2 separate regions of the Homo sapiens genome follow, and region 2 is linked to region 1. The links come from fine-mapping of genetic effects on gene expression. A gene starts in region 1. The other region holds a variant in brackets. All regions are shown on one strand. Distances are between the middles of the regions.

Region 1 (5,366 bases):
TTTTTTTTTGAGATGGAGTCTTCGTCTGTCGTCCAGGCTGGAGTGCAGTGCCACGATCTTGGCTCACTGCAAGCTCCGCCTCCCAGGTTCATGCCATTCGCCTGCCTCAGCTTCCCGAGTAACTGGGACTACAGGCACCTGCCACCATGCCTGGCTAATTTTTTGTATTTTCTTTAGTAAAGACGGGGTTTCACCGTGTTAGCCAGGATGGTCTCGATCTCCTGACCTCGTGATCCACCCACCTCGGCCTCCCAAAGTGCTGGGATTACAGGCGTGAGCCACCGCGCCCGGCCTAATATTCTTAAATGTCTCCATCTTCACCAAAAAAGCTGCAGAAATGTGCTCCTTCCCCAGATGCCACACATCATTTATCACGTGTCCGTTTGAACTAGTCACTAAGGAAAGTGCACATTGTTTCCTGGGCCATTTCAAGTACAGGCCAGCGGCAAGGATACAACATCCAAATGGTACTTACATTTAAACTTTTATCCATTTTGGCCGGGCGCAGTGGCTCATGCCTGTAATCCCAGCACGCTGGGAAGCGGGCCCATCACCTAAGGTCAGGAGTTCAAGACCAGCCTGGCCAACATGGTGAAACCCATCTCTACTAAAAATGCAAAAATTAGCCAGGCGTGGTGGCGGGCACCTGTAATCCCAGCTACTCAGAAGGCTGAGGCAGGAGAATCATTTGAACCCGTGAGGCAGAGGTTGCAGTGAGCCAAGATTGTGTCACTGCACTCTACTCCAGCCTGGGCAACAGAGAGAGACTCTGTCTCCCCCCCAAAAAAAAAAAAAAAAAAAAACACTTTTATTCATTTTGATAGTTTAAGGACTTTTTAAAACATGAAGCATTTAAAACAAACATGTAAAACAGACAAAACAGCCTTTCAGGTGATGGTAAATTCAAAACGTTTACTTAGGGCAGGTCCACACAAGACCTGCTCATTTCAAGAGGCCACTTCTGGTGACTCCTGTGATTGTGCTGATCTGTACTGGATGAGTCAGAGCCCAGCTTCCATCAGTGAGTAAATGTCACATGTCCCTCCCCAACCCCTGCTTTTTTCCGTAACAATTTCCCAGGTAAACCTGAAATGCCTAAAGAGCTGTTTAAATAACACTTTAATTTCATCACCCCCATAAAGCATTTCTAACCATTAGTCAGTAACTCGCACCCCTCCCCATTTCCAAAGGCAACACCCCATCTCACCTGCACTCTCCATTGCAAAATCAGAGTACTACTTGCCTCTAATTCAAATTCAGTCGGCAAAATTTCACTCAATTTAGATCAACAGGGCAGGTCACGGGGGCTCAAGCCTGTAATCCCGATACTTTACAAGGCCGAGGCAGGCGAATCACTTGAGCTCAGGAGTTCCAGAGACCAGCCTGGGCAACATGAGGAAACCCTGCCTCTACGAAAAATACACAAATTAGCCCAGCGTGGTGGACCGCACGTGTAGTCCCAGATACTCAGGAGGCTGAGGTGGGAGGATCGCTTGAACCCAGGAGGTAGAGGCTGCAGTGAGCCGAGATCACGCCACTGCACTCAGCCTGGGCAACAGAGCAACAGCCTGTCTCGAAAACAAACAAAACAAAATTTAGATCAATAAGCATTTCTGGCCGGACGTGGTAGCTCACACCTGTAATCCCAACCCTTTGGGAGGCTGAGGAGGGCAGATCGCTCGAGTCCAGAAGGTCGAGACGAGGCTGGGCAACATGGCGAGACCTCGTCTCTATAAAAAAAAATAAAAATTAGACGGGCGTGGTGGTGAGCACCTGTGGTCCCAGCTACTCGGGAGGATGAGGTGGGTCGATCACTTGAGCCTGGGAGGCGGAGGCTGCAGGGAGCCGTGATCGCTCCACTACACTGCAGCCTGGGTGACAGAGCCAGACCCTGTCTCAAAAACAAAACAAAACAAAGCTTTTTGCCTGTGAATTCCATGAACCATTCTACTTCCTACTGAAATACTAAGTGCCAACATCTACTGAGTGCTTCCTGCATACTAGGCATTGTATTATTTGTATTTTACATACGTCATCTCATTTAACCCTCACAACAACCCTGAGGTACTAACAGGTGCTAATCTATGTCACCGTCGGGAAACTGAGGCTTGGGCATGAAACGTGCCCAGGGGTTACATGGCTACTGAGTGGCTGCGGTGGGACTGGATCCCAGGCAATCCGACATAAGAGTTCCCATAACAACCGCTAATAATACAACTAAGAGAACAACTCAGTCCTTGGAGTAGTCTACAATGTGAGGTGGTATTATCACGGAGAGTCCACGTGCAGACCTTTCCCTGCAGGCACGCACGCTAGTAAGCATTTACTCGTAAGCATGCTTGCAGTTCAGAGCTTCTAGTCCACCCAGAAAACGCTTTCTATGCATTCCTCTGGATCTCCTTTTGTAGTCTTCCCAGGGATTGAAGACCTGGACACCGGCGCCAAATCTGAACAGACTCTCACTACACCAGTTCATGGAACAGGAAATCTCTGTCTCCGGCAACAGGTTAAGTCTGAAGACTGAGGCTACCTGCTGTCCAACAAACTTTAAAGGCTGACTTCAAAAGGCAGCCAGGCCTAGCTAATGCAACGGGGCCTTCCCTCGCCGCTCTTCCTGCGACAGGGGCGTTCCTGAAGGGAGGCTGAAGAGCAATGGGCCGACGCCGAGCCTGCCGCTCCCTCCCGGCGGGCACAGGAAAGGTGGAGCCCGCAGCCGTGGGTCCCGCTCCGTGGCGCGGAGGGCCGGGGTCTCGGCGCCGCCCCGTCCCCCGCCCCGCCACTGCGGCACGGCTGAGTCACCACCGCCTCCGTCCCGCGGCGGGGCCGCCCAGGCCAGAGGCCGGGAAGGTCGCGTCCCCCGGGCTTGGACAGCCGTCGGGGTCGGAGCCAGGGCTGGGGCCGGGGCTTCCAGGCGAGCCTCGCGCCCTGCTCGCTGTTCCGGGGCGGGGAACCTGCGGCTCGGGCCACTCACGCGGAGGCTCGGGGGAGTCTACGGGTGGCGCCGGGCCCGGTCCCCCGAGGCCGAAGGGAGCCGGGCACCAAGAAGCCAGGCTGGGCCACCCGCCGCCCCACACCGGCCCGGTCTCGCGGCCGCTCCCGCTCCGGCTCCTCACTCCTACCGCTCGCCGCCCCGCTTACTTGGCTTTGAGGCGCAGCAGCTCCTCAAACTGCCCGGCTGAGCCGACCTCCTCCACGGCCGCTACAGCTGCCTCAGCCGCCCCCGCCGCCATGCTGCCGCCGCCAGACAGAAGCAATCCAGTGCCGGCGGCCGGATGTGGGCGGGGCCACGGGGAGCTGAGCGGCTGCGCGAGGGAAAGCCCCGCCCCTGCCTGCGCTGAGGCTGCCGAGCCTGAGAAATCCCAAAAGGGGCCTCGGCGGCGGGCTCTGGATCCCGCTGGGGGGCTCTGACCCTGCCAAGTCTGGGCACTCCGCTGCGGGCCTCCTGGCTCCCGGGGTTCATGGCTGTTATGGTTCCTGGCTGTCGGGGCTCCTGGCTTTCGGGGCTCCCTGGCTGAAGGGGCTCCTGGCTGTAGGGGCTCCTGGCTATGGAGGTTCCCGGTTATAAGGGCTTCTGGATGTAGTGGATTCTGGCCGTCGAGGTCCCTGGCTGTCGGGGCTCCTGGCCGTAATGGCCCCTGGCTGTCGGGACCCCTGGGTGTCGGGGTTCCTGGCTGTCGGGACCCCTGGGTGTCGGGGTTCCTGACTGTAGGGGCTCCTGGGTGTTAGGGTTCCTGGCTATAGCAGGGGCTCCTGGGTGTCGGGGTTCCTTGCTGTCAGGGCTCCTGGTGGTAGAGGCTTCTTGCTGTTGGCTTCCTGGCTGTCGGGGTGACTGGGTGTCAGGGCTCCTGGTGTTAGGGTTCCTGGCTTCCTGGCTGTAGTAGGGGCTCCTGGGTGTCGGGGTTCCTTGCTGTCAGGGCTCCTGGTGGTAGAGGCTTCTGGCTGTTGGGGTTCCTGGGTGCCAGGGCTCCTGGGTGTCAGGGTTCCTGGCTGTCAGGACACCTGACTCCTGAGGCTCCTGGCTTTTGGGGCTCCAGACCTTCCTTGCACTTCCTGTGTCTCCTGGGTCTGTAATAGAAGGGGCCGGTGGAGGGGTGGGGGTGAGACATGTGAGTGAAAGTGAAGTCAGATGTGTACATTTAGGAAGCTGAAATTATCAAAAATGAAATTGCATAAAGGTGAGGAAGAACTGGGAGGTCTGGGAACAGAAGTGGTAGATCTTGAACTTCAACACAGACAGGGTGCTTCCAATTCAGTCCTGGGACCTGAACCCGGAGCCCACAGCATGTCCCTCCTCCCCTGGCCCTCCGCGCGTGCCGCCACTCATTGCAGCCCCACAGAGCCATCACCCATTGTAACCTCAGAACAGAAGGGGCTGGGTGGGTCCACAGATCCCTGCACTCCTCCCGTCTTGCCTCCTTGGATGATCCCTGGCTTGTCTTTCTCCCTTGGGAATCCCCCTGATGTTGGCTCTCCATGTGGTGTACTCTGTACCCCACACCCCATGCTTCCCACACACCTTCTGGCCTGAGTAATCTCCATGCCCCCAGTGACATCAACCTCCAGGGAAACCTCAATAGCAAGCCCAGAACCCTCCCCTGCATCCCAGAGCCTAGCATCCACTAACTTTGAGGAGGGGCCATCTTTTATTGGATATCCCCAAACCACACTGGGCCTTCCCTCCAAAGTGCCTCTCCTCTTGGTTCCCATCTCAGGGAACACCATCGCTCCCACCCAGACACTTGGGGCTCCTTCTGACTGGTCCCCCTGCTGTCCCTGGGCTTTGAGGCCAAGCCCCCACAGAGCCTTCCCTACTAGCCAGGTGTTCCCAGGCCTCCTTTGCTTGCTTCTACCGTGGCCTGTCTCATGTTGTAGAACTGTGCTTGTCCTCCATTGGCCTGTGTTCTTAAAGGGCAGGAGCTGATCTGTGTCTCAGTGCCTGGATCAGAGTCAGACACATAGGAGGTACTCAGTCCATGCTAACAGCTGCCAGAGGACTGGGCTCACTGGATTGCAAAGACTTCGTACGAGAAAAGTAGCATATCATTCATACTTTTTATATTGATTACATGTTGAAATGAGGATATTTGGATATATTCGGTTTTCTGAAATATATTATTTAAATTGGTCTCTTTTACCTTTGGCTCCTGAGAAATGTCTAATTTCATAGGCAACTTTCATTCGTGGCCCTTGAATTTTCTTGGGCAGCACTACTGTGGTGTTTAAAAGCCTTTTGGAGCCTGTCACATGTATACCTCACCTGGAGAAATACATGGTATTGAACACGGTAAATTGTGTTATTTAAAATGCAACAGGAGAGTGATGAGGAACCATTTTGTATCTTGCCTGTGGTGGTGAGAACACAAACT
Region 2 (5,366 bases), 47 kb before region 1:
CAGCATGCCCAGCGGGGTGTTATTTTCAACAGGAACATGCTTTCTTACACTTAAGTGTGTGAAACTACACACGCTTCCTGCACCTCAGTGCACAGGGTTCCGGGATGAAGACAAAATGCTGGCATGGAGGCTGCCCCAGAAAATCCAGCCCGCTAACCGTGGGCCACCACCTCCCATCTCAGCCTCTCCACTCAGGACCGTCCCTGCCAGATCCTATGCTGCTTCTCATCAGCAACTTCGGACAGCCAAGCGTGCTGCACATGGGACACGCTCCTACCCACCAGGAGCCTTTGATTCTGGGATAAGACTCCTGGCATGAGGAAGACCCGCAGATCCTCCCTACCTGCACCCACCAAGGGCAAATGCCCTGGAACCTTCCTCCAGACCTAAGGGCAAAATAGAGGGATATGCTGGGGCTCAGAAAATGATACCCCAAGGCCTGTGGTTTTGGCACACTGAGGAACTGCAGGACACCGGAAGGGCCTCAGAGGCAAGGGCTCTCTGACCCTCTGGCCCCTTCCCTTGCCCGCACCCCACCACCCCTCAAGGTAGGCCACGGAAAGTAGAATGCCTCTTCCCCAGTGCAGGTCATAGAAACCAGAACCCCTCTCCTGCGAGGCCAGCCATAAAACCTAGAAATACGGCCAGGCTCTGTGGCTCACGCCTGTAATCCCAGCACTTGGGAGGCTGAGGCAGGCGGATCACTTGAGGTCAGGAGTTTGAGACCCACCTGGCCAACATGCCGAAACCCCGTCTCTACTAAAAATACAAAAACTAGCCGGGCATGGTGGCACACGCCTGTAATCCCAGCTACTGTGGAGGCTGAGGCAGGAGAATCGCTTGAACCCAGGAGGCAGAGGTTGCAGTGAGCCGAGATCGCGCCACTGCACTCCAGCCTGGGGGACAAGAGCAAAACTCTGTCTCAAAAAAAAAAAAAAAAAAAACTAGAAATATGACTCTAACTTTCCCTGGCCTTTGTGTAGGAGTGTAACTGAGCAGCTTAACTTCAAAATGCATTTTTAGACTTTTTTTTCCTTTCTCTTTAGTCCTGAGATGCAACCTTAGAGCAAACTGCAGAAGCCTTTTCCCTTAATCTTAAAATAGACTCCATACCCCTCCCCTTTCTCACCGTATACTCTCTTCACATGTGTCTGTGAGCTAGTCTCTAATTACGTGCTTACTTCGAAGTTCTAGGGACTAATCTTGAGACAGACCAAGCGTGGAAACCCAGCTGCAAAATCCCAGAGCTTACCTCAAGGTGAGCAGTCAAATCTGGCCACTTGTTGAGATGACACCAGCCCGCACTCCAGGTGGACGGAGGCCCAGGACAGCCGCCGGAACAAGACACACATTGTACTCAGCACGATCCCTGCGCGCCTCCCAGCTCAAGCTCCTACTCCCCACTTCTTAAACCCTTGCCTTCTCTCCAGAATTCAAAGTAGTTACTTTGGGTGGGAATCCAGCCATATCCCCATGACTAGTTCTGGTTAATAGTCACTTTCTTTCTACCAGACCTTGCTCTTGTCAACTGGACTCTGTAACTGGCGAGCACCCGGATCTGAGGTCCACTACAGGAGCCGGCCACAAAGACATCCTCAACACTACTTTATCTGAAAATGGATCCCAGACCTTCATTCCAGAAGGGCCCTGCCCTGTACCTGGAAGGAAGAAAGCTACACACGGGGCAAGGCTTCCCCATCCAGTCTACGATTAGATCCTTCCCTTCTGTCCAATCACATTTCTGCACAGCCACCCACTCTTCGTTGAATCTGAGTGTGAACATGCAGTTTCTCTTGGGTTTTTATTTCTGAAGGCTCCTGTGTCACCTAAGTCTTTACATACATTTTATACTTTTCCTTGGTAATCTATTCTAGGTGTTGGCTGTGCCCCTTGTGATGGGTGAGGAAAGGCATCCTCCTTTCTGCCCCTACAGACAGGTGACAGGGCTCTCTGAGGGCATCCAAGCTCCTTCTGGCTTTTCTCCATTATATCGGGGCTCTTCCTTTTAAGCACAAAACATAATACAAGAGCATAAAAATCTATTTTAATTCTTTTAGAAATTACCACACATGCCTTCTTCCTAAATAGACAGCTCCCATATCCAGGTTACAAGCTTGGGCTCAACGACACGGCTAGGGGTTAAGGAACTCGCTCCTGGGGACAGCAGGCTGGGAGATGAGGGGCAGAGAAACCCTTACCTTACCACATGGCAGGCATCCCCCGGGCAACCCTGAACAAGGGCAGGCTCTCTCTCTAGGAGTTCATATGGAAATCTGTAACTTCCTCAAATAAAACTTGACTTTTTGAGAAAAGATGAACACTGTACCACTGACAACCATTTAGATGAATGACCGTGGGGAGAACAAGAAGGTCTTTTTCAGTCAGAATTTGCGGGTCCTGGCAATTAGGTTTTTTTGTTTTTTTTTTTTTTTCTGAGACAGGCTCTTATTTTGTCACCCAAGCTGGGGTGCAATGGCACGATCACTGCAGCCTTGACCTCCTGGGCTCAAGCAATCCTCCCATCTCAGCTCCCCAAGTAGCTGGGACTACAGGTGCACACCACCATGACCAGTTAATTTTTTATTTTTTGTAGATATGAGGTTTCGCCATGTTGCTCAGGCTGGTCTCAAGCTCCGGAGCTCAAGCAACCCGCCTGCCTCCGCCTCCCAAAGTGCTGGGATTACAAGCACGAGCCATTGTGCCCAGCCTGGCACTTAATTTGTGAAAGCCACACCATTTCTAACAGGAACATAAAAATACCAGGTCATTTCAGAAGCCCCAGACTTGGGCAACTCCACTCACTAACTTGCAGCGTGCTACCTCAAAGCCAGTGTGGCACGAGGCTTCAAGCACAGCACTGGGGCTGCGCTGACAGATCCTGGTTCAAATCCCAGCTCCCAGCCCTAGAACCTTACAGTGACCTAAGTGCACCAAGACTCCCTCAACGTGTTCTGCTGCAGCCAGTGAGTCAGTGCACGTGCCCGGCCCATGAGCTAACTGAACTCATGGCTTCTGAATCTGAATGTCTCTAAATATCAGACAAAGCTGTATGAAAAAAGCCCCCAAGACTCTGAAACCAGATGGGATGCCAGTTATAAAACTTGTCTTTAAAGTTACCCATCCTGGTGAATGAGGCATCAGGAAGCTACTGCAGCTTGTGTCTGATTCAGAAAGGTGGATACCTTTCCTCA[C/T]CCATCACAAGGGGCACAGCCGACACTCCTATAACAAAAGAGATTAACAAGAGAAAAGCGTAAGATTTATTTAAGTCTTACGTGACACAGGAGCCTTCAGAAATGAAGACCCAAAGACTCAAGAGAAACTGTCCATATTTACGCTGATTCAACGATCAGTGGACGGCCGTGAGGAAATGTGACTAGACAAAAAGGGAAGGGTCTAGGTCCTCAAACTCAACATCTGAAATGTGTATAAAACAAGAATTCATCTGCAAATAATCAACTTACTTTTATTTAGAAAGGTTTGAATTTTGAAAAGTAGCAACTGTCAAATTTAAGAAAACTGATCTTAGGTCAGGCATGGTGGCTAGGGCCTGTAATCCCAACACTTTGGGAGGCTGAGGTGGGAGGATCACTTGAGCCCAGGAGATTGAGACCAGCCTGGGCAACATAGTGAGACTTCATCTCTACAAAAAAAAAAAATCAAAACACAGCCGGGCATGGTGGCACATGCCTGTCATCTCAGCTACTGAGGAGGCTGACGGGGGAGGATCTTGAGCCTGGGAGGTCAAGGATGCCGTGAGCCATGACTGCACCACTGCACTCCAGCCTGGGTGACAGAGGAGACCCTGTCTCAAAAAACAAAGGAAAAGAAAGCTGATTTTACTTTAAAAACTAAACCAGAAATCATGTTTCATATTGCAATCTTAAGCTTGTAACTTTTGACTGTCAAGATAGGTCTTATTTGTATAATTCTTTCCAATAAGGCAGATAATGATTACCAAGCGCTTAAAATGTATTACAGTTGTTTCAGAGATTAAACATTTTTAAGTTATTAAAATGAGGCTTTCTAATTATAAAAACATGCTATTTTTTAGTCTACTCCTCAGCAGACTTAAGACATTTTTGTAAAGAACGGAAATGGCAAATAACTTTTTTCCTTCCTTCTTAATGATCAATCCAGTGGGACCAAGGTGGACTTCCTGATGGTTCTGCAAGGCTCAGTGTTCAACAAAAAAAGGCAAAAACATGTAAGTCACACGTGGGCAAGGCAACTGAACCCACCAGGTCCTGTTATTTTATTAAGGAGCATTTACATTATGATAGCAAGTTTCAACACATTCATCAACAAGGCGGTCTTCAAATCAATCAGTCAACCCCCGGAGTTAGAAAGTAGAGTCATGAGGAAGAGCTGCTTGGCTGTAGGAAGTAGGGTTAATGCCCTCTAATCCCCGGAAAGGGGCAGACTGAAGCCAGAGCCAGAATCCTGGCAATTCACCAGTTTCTCATCACAGGTAAAAAGGCAACTGCATCCCACATAGCTCTGAGGGGGAGGCCTCCCGGGAGGGGCAAGCCTAAGGTTTGGGTGTCCCAGACCCTGGATGGAAGCCCCAGCTCCCAATCTGTAGCTGTGCCCTTGAGATAGCTGCTTTCTCCCCTCACCTGCAAAGGAGAATTCCACAAACTACCTAGCCTGTTTCACTGGTTTTTTTCTTTCCATTTTTGATCAAGAGTTTTTATTTTAAAAAAAAGTTCATTCCTGCAGGCTTATTTCCCCTAAACAGATAACAATTCCCTAAGAAGCCTTCCTACAAGGAAGGCACAAACACGCAAGTCAAGAGGAGTGAACAGCCCTGCCTGTATGAGGGCCTTTCTGGTTCCTATTCAACCAGCCTCTTCTAGAAAGGAAATTCTGACATTTGAGGTTTGGTTTCTAAGAGTTAACAGGCAAATAGATGGCAGCCCCCATCATCAAGAGCCTCCCCACAGCACCAGCTCTATCCTAAGCACCATGCAGCTTTAACCTGGCAGGATGCCACACAAAGCCCCACTACATACTCAAAAGAGCAGGCCAAGAAAGGGAGGGCAGGCAGAGCTGGCCACAGGCTCTGGCCAGGGTCCACGCTCCCAAAAACGCAGCAGTGCTTCTCGGAACAGAAATGTGTCCAGACATGAAAACCCTCCATACAAAGCCTGCCTGGAGGGTCCCTCCCACCACAAGCACCCAACGAGGCCTCACGTGTGGGACAACATCCAAATGACACATTGTCACCTTTCCTTGTGAACTGAACAGATTTCTCAAATTCAGAAAACAACTTTGTCTCTAGAATTTGGGGATCAGAGAGGATTTCAATTCTGATAAAACATTTCTACAAGAGCAGGCTCAATTATAAACCCATACGCAAACTCTCT

Direction of the effects. Alleles are on the strand shown, and positions count from the first base shown. SD is a standard deviation of normalised expression in the study named.
With allele C in place of T in region 2, the expression in putamen of the gene that starts at base 3,260 in region 1 is higher (small effect, 0.24 SD a copy in GTEx).

The links. PIP is the estimated chance that this variant, and not a neighbour inherited with it, causes the effect. A credible set is the group of variants that fine-mapping cannot tell apart.
Region 2: its variant is the best candidate, but not a certain one, in a credible set for the expression of GLRX3 in putamen (GTEx, PIP 0.61).

The regions. Positions count from the first base shown.
Region 1 is chr10:130,134,285-130,139,650 of GRCh38, reverse strand. GLRX3 (glutaredoxin 3) reads right to left here and starts at 3,260. Exons shown (of 11, transcript NM_006541.5): 1 at 3,139-3,260. The coding sequence starts at 3,230. It overlaps LOC105378561 (a long non-coding RNA gene), which reads left to right and starts at 3,280. Exons shown (of 6, transcript XR_001747659.2): 1 at 3,280-5,366. RefSeq lists enhancers at 880-1,514, 1,515-2,150, 2,429-2,478 and a silencer at 2,679-3,278.
Region 2 is chr10:130,181,721-130,187,086 of GRCh38, reverse strand. It overlaps LOC124902561, which reads right to left. Exons shown (of 2, transcript XM_047426136.1): 2 at 1-3,219. Among named protein-coding and RNA genes, the nearest start is that of GLRX3, 48 kb to the right of the region's middle. The variant C/T (reference allele first, on the strand shown) is at 3,192.